2 linked regions of the Homo sapiens genome follow. The protein of the gene in region 2 interacts with the protein of the main gene of each other region in a biochemical or structural test. Each region holds a gene or a part of one and is shown on either strand. Other genes may lie near its edges.

What was found.
Region 1: of the proteins of CDK6 (region 2) and N4BP1, one has a biochemical effect on the other in vitro, tested with the Homo sapiens proteins (one large-scale study listed by BioGRID and IntAct).

The regions. Positions count from the first base shown.
Region 1 is NC_000016.10:48,551,181-48,554,680, reverse strand, and holds part of N4BP1 (NEDD4-binding protein 1), read left to right. Parts: intron 1-1,011; coding exon 1,012-1,142; intron 1,143-3,198; coding exon 3,199-3,295; intron 3,296-3,500. UniProt on the Homo sapiens protein: Potent suppressor of cytokine production that acts as a regulator of innate immune signaling and inflammation.
Region 2 is NC_000007.14:92,606,998-92,609,573, forward strand, and holds part of CDK6 (cyclin-dependent kinase 6), read right to left. Parts: 3' UTR 1-2,576. UniProt on the Homo sapiens protein: Serine/threonine-protein kinase involved in the control of the cell cycle and differentiation; promotes G1/S transition. Phosphorylates pRB/RB1 and NPM1.

The DNA of each region.
Region 1 (3,500 bases), on a different chromosome or scaffold from region 2:
ATGCAGGGAGTATTGTCGCTGGAATCTAAGTGACCATTGAAGCAGTGAACATAGATTATGCTAATCTCATAAACTACAGCATCACAGTTTGAGATTTTAGTCTTTTTTTCTTTCTAATACCCATGAGTAGACAAATTACCACCTGCAGAATTTTAAACTTTTAACACTTTTTTATCTCCACGTTTAATTAACTGCTGGAGAGTAAAATTTAAGTACTTTCTTCCTTTCCGTTGAAATGTGTTATGGATGGAGGGGTGGGCATTTTTTAATCCTCTATACCAAGGATTGTAAACTATGGGCCAAATCAGGCCCGCCCACCTGTTTTTGTAAATGTGGAACATAGCCGCACACATTCACTTACAGTTATCTGTGGCTGTTTTCACATTCAGAGTTGGGTGGTATGACAGAGACTGTGTGGCTCTTAACAGAAAAAGTGTGCTAACCTGTGTTCTCTACTGTTCATTGTTGTTGTTGTTGTTGCTGTTCTTTTAATTTTTTTTTTTTTTTACCTTTTTTCCCTGCTTTCTGCATTCTTAAAATAGCCTTTCACGGCCCCCCATTAGTTTCATTTGAGTCTTGCCCTCAACGTGTTTCTCGTAAGCTGTAAACTGGGTAAATATAGCCATTCCCTAAAAAGAGTGGAGCCCTCCTGGGACAGGACACAGCAGCATCTTCGGAGGTTGCAGGGGTTATGACCATGTCACATCTTTGTCCCTTTCTTCTGTCACAGGGAACAAGTATTACCATGGAGCTCACTGCTTTCTATCATAACAACACACCCAGTTAGATTAACAAAATGTGAGAAAAATCCTAAGACACTATTAAGAGTTCTGTCCCCTACAGTGGGTTCCATCCTAACTTTGTGCAACTAAATGCCAAAAATGTAAGAATATTAAAGGAAACTTTGTTCTTACTGTTTGTTGTATGTGTATGTTAACTTTTCATGGTGAAACTTACTGTGCTTTAAACAGAAATAAACTTTACTTATTTTCTTTACTTTGTAATTTCTAGCCATGGTCTGAAAAAGTTCTTTTCTTGTCGTGGAATTGCAATTGCAGTTGAATATTTTTGGAAGCTTGGCAACAGAAACATCACTGTATTTGTCCCTCAGTGGAGAACAAGGCGTGATCCTAATGTCACAGGTGAGGCAAACTGATTTTTTCAGATTTCTAGTGAAATGTTTAATGAGTTGGCTTATAATTGCAACACATGCTATTTAGAATAGAGCTGTGTGCCATAGGCAGCGGCTTTAAAAATAAAATTGTAAATCTACTGCACCTAGCAAAACATCAATTGAAGAGAGTGCCACAGCATCACAAATACTAGGAGGTAGGATGGAAAGTTAACATAGTTATTTATACAGGAAGTTATATTAAGAGTTCATTATATATCACGTTTTCTTTTTACTTTCTAAAAAATGTCTTTTTATTAGGCTGGATTTCTGACTGTTTAGATAGTATTTTTGAAGTCACTTCATAAATTTGGCCCCTTCAAGTTACGTCTTTTTAACAGTCTATTTAAGGCTTAATATAAATCATTTCCGTTAACCATAAAGTACTCTGGCTGACTTGCAGGCCACACACGAAAGATTTGAACTTATTATGAATCATGAAATGTTCTAGAGAAACTTCAGGTTGTTTGTGTCATAGGTCATGATAGGAAGATAGGTGAAGGGGCTGTGCCAGGCAACTTAACACATCAGAGGGCCTGGAAAAATAAAGTAGATTGTGGGGAAGGAGGGTCAGTACAGGACTTGCCCAGCACATTAAACAGGAAGTGAAGTTTAGTCACTAGTGGGGCAGAAATGGTCAAACCACACAGTTCCCAAGTATTCCCAACTTCCCCCATTTTGAAGAGCATATTCATCTTAACAGAGGGTACATAAGGAATGAAGCAGATACACTCATTTTGTTATTTTTGCAATTGGATCCCTGAAGGAGTCTTTTTTTTTTTTTTTTTTTTTTTTTTTTTTTTTTTTTTTCTGAGACGGAGTCTCGCTCTGTCGCTCAGGCTGGAGTGCAGCGGCATGATCTCGGCTCACTGCAACCTCTGCCTCCTGGGTTCAAGTGATTCTTCTGCTTCAGCCTCCCGAGTAGCTGGGACTGCAGGCACGCACCACCACGCCCGGCTAATTTTTGTATTTTTAGTAGAAACGGGGTTTCATCATATTGACCAGGCTGGTCTCGAACTCCTGACCTTGTTATCCACCCACCTCACCCTCCCAAAGTGCTGGGATTACAGGCAGGAGCCACCACGCCCTGCCGAAGGAGTCTCTTAGTGCTTATGTGCTCTGCATTGCTTAAGTCAGTGGTGAGTACCATTGTAGGGAATGCAGGTGTGGGAATCTCAGGCCCTGAGCTTTTAGCTGCTTTTTCCCATTACTGGTTTTCTAAAATGTAGCTTTGACCCTCCATTCTCCACTGTCATCACCCACCCCCATGAAAACTGGCAAATATTTGTATGGACACCTTTGAGAATTTAGATAGGAGGCCAGTAGGAGGAGGCTTCAACAGACTCTTGGCATAGGGATCTTTCTTGTGGTAGAACCATTTGCCCCTCCTATCCCTAGATCTGCCCTAGCCTCACCCCTACCCTCTCTCAGGGTCTCTTATCATCCCTCTCTTTGTCCTCTACTTCTTGTAGTATAGCTCTGAAAGAGTTTTTGATGGTAGGCTTCATTAAATACCCAGGCTGGAGTGCAGCAGTGCCGTCTCAGCTCTCTGCAACCTCTGCCTCCTGGGTTCAAGCGATTCTCCTGCCTCAGCCTCCTGAGTAACTGGGATTACAGGCACGCGCCACCACACCTGGCTAATTTTGTATTTTTAGTAGAGACAGGGTTTCATCATGTTGGCCAGTCTGGTCTTGAACTCCTGACCTTAAGTAATCCACCTGCCTCAGCCTCCCAAAGTGCTGGGATTACAGGCGTGAGCCACTGTGCCTGGCCTACTATTCTTGAGAAGCAAATGAGTTTAATCTTATGTTTAAAAAATAACTGAAGTTAGTTCATATGTTGTTTTTGCCTTAGTATGGGTCTTGCTTGTTTTTTTTTTAATTCCTAGTGAGTTAGTAAAATTGAGTCAATAGAAAAAAGGTTTTCTACAGCTCTCCAAGTGAAACATTTGAGTGTACTTTCATTTCTTGATACATTTGGGAAGATAGCCCTTTTCTGAATGTATATTCAACTTATTCCATGAACAGAACAGCACTTCTTAACCCAGCTCCAGGAGCTCGGAATATTATCTTTAACTCCTGCCCGGATGGTCTTTGGAGAAAGAATTGCTTCTCATGATGACAGGTATGAAAGGCCATTCTCCTTCCTAAGGTTGGAGTGGGGTGGTGAGGAGCCAGCCACCTGCTCTGCTGGACAGGTCCACACTTTTAGAGGACCTGCTTGATGCAGTGGGTTTAATATTTATGGTCATTAAGGTGATATGCTCAGTGATATTTGCTACATAGTTTTTAGAAACACCACAGAAGAAACTCTTTGTGTTTTAGTAAAA
Region 2 (2,576 bases):
TTATAATAAATTATACAGGCAATCCTTGCTTTTTATTACCACACTGGATTGCTTCTGTACACAGCTAAGTTGCCTGAAGCATGGAAACTTGGACTTCTCCATCTGACACGTTCTGGAAGCCTCAAGGCACAAGCTGACAGTTCTGCTTCTACAGAAAAACTCTCACACTGCTCTCCTCTCAACAGTACTGCCTGTTCCCACTACTCCACATGACACCTACGAGGGCACTACATCACGTGAGGGAAGCTTCTTCATGAGGGCAGACAAGAGGAGGCACCACCCAGGCACTGGTCTCTGCCTGGCATCTATTCCGAGGGCCACCTGGCACAGTTTCTAAATTAAGGCATATCTAAAATGCTTTTCTACCTTTAGTTTTTATTTTTGCTATATTTTTGCACTCTACTATATGCATATTTAATAAAAACAACTACAAAGTCCTTTACTTTAATTCCTTTACATAATGATAAAACACCTAGATACCCAAAATACTACATCTATATATTCAAATCTACTAATCATGTTACAAATGCATGCAGCTTATTTGGGGGCTTAGTCTAATTTTTATTTTCTTAGGTCCATCAATACCATGATAATGAACATTAGATGCAAAATCCTAACACTTTCTGCCTTCAGTTGTACTTTCACAGGACTAGTGTGATTCAGAAATAAATAACATACATGAATAATAATAGAAATAATTTATGCAAATGTAGAACAACTTGAAAAAAAATCCCCCGCCTGTCAGGTGCTGTTCCTGGGGGTAGCTGATGCTATAAATTCCATGTACTAACTAATATATTTACTACAGGTAATAGGAAAACAAATGAATAAAAAGTGAGGAACTATGATATACATGTGTATATTTTTGCAAACACAGGATCAGAATGAAAAGATATATCATGCACTGTGAGGTTTAAGAAATGTATTACTGCTGGGATTTGTTTTATTATTCAGACTTTAAGATCAAACTGAGAGTTGTTGGTGATCACAGAAATATTGCTAGCTGATACATATTATTGCATTTCATAAAACTTAAGATTAGAAACTTTCAAGTAAGGGTACAACGGGTATCTTCAGAACTTTAACCTAAGCACATCAACGGAATTTTTCTAGGGACCACAGAGAGTTAGAAATTAAATAATTGTGTGGCTCTATGTGTGCTGATTAGTGCTACAGTCATAGTTCTTGGCAGTCAATATGTAGTTATATGCCCCCTTTGAGAAAAACCTACATTTGACAATCCAAACTCCTAAAATTGAGAAAGGGTTATTTGTGTGACCAAACAACTCACACGGAAGATTCCTCTCAACATGAAAATCCCCTGCTACATGAGATAATTTGTTTACATACCTTTAATTACCTAACAAAGAAAAAGAGAGAAAAGAAACTGGAAGCTAAAGAATTGAGAGCTTTTGCCAACTGAAGACGAAGCAGAAAATAAACTTTTCAAAACAAAACTTTTCCAGGCATATCTTTCACCATCACATATATAGAATGATGGAAAATAAAAAAATAAAAAAAAATTCCTGCAATTATACATCTTTTCTTTAAAAAAACAAAAACAAAAACAAAAACTGAGCTTAGCGCCTGAGAGATGCGGGGTAGACAGCTTCACACAGGGCAGCTGCTACCGCATCTCTTTTTACCCGAACTTTCGGAGAATTGTGTTGTACTTATTTATGCACAGAAGACACCCGTTTGCTACTAGGGACATTTTTCTTCCTAAGATTTGCAGAACAGATGCCTCTGAGACAGCAGCAGGGCACTCTGACCTCGGAAAGCAGCCCGCGGGGCCGCACATAATTTCAGGCACCGGCAGGTGAGTGGGAGGCGGGGCCCCAGCCCGGCCTCGCCCACTGCCTCTCTCCTGCCAAAGGGGCGGGGCAACGAGGCAGCGCGCCCGGAAGGCTTTCAAGTGGGAATCAAGTTTTGAGCACGAGCAAATGGGGTTCAGACTGGCCACTGTTATAACAAACCCTGGGGTGGAATTCGGCCTTTCGCATAGGGGCTTTAACTGGACTCTAGTTCCTGGGAGCAGAGGGGCGAATGAGGCGGGGGATTTCTCAGCCAGTTTCTGACTGCCCCTAGTGTATGTGGCATTTTGGTTCAGTATGAATTACTGAGACTCATCTGCTTGCCACTCAGGAGGAAAGTTGGGCAGGCACCGTCGAGTGTCTGCCACTCAAAAGGAATAAGCTGCTTTCTGTGGTGCTGTGCTAAGGAAACTGAAAAATACTGCAATATCCTTCCCTACTAAATTTCAAGTGACACTGCTGTGAGAAAGGTGACCTCTAAAATTAACTTAATCATTTGGGGTATAAGAAGTCTTTAAGTAGACTTGTAAATTTAAAAAAAGTATATAAAGTTGCCAAAAAACTTCAAAAGTTAAGTATGTAGACACACTCCTAAGTTGTTATGCTCATATACTTCAGACTTTTTTTTTTTAATTAGAGCTTCTTATGAATTTACATTTGTGATTCCACAAATGTTAAAATTACCTGGTCTTTTGGTATTTTAGGGCTCTGTTTCAATACAGCAATTTTTCAGACAAAAGTTTTGTCTACTGAATTACTGAT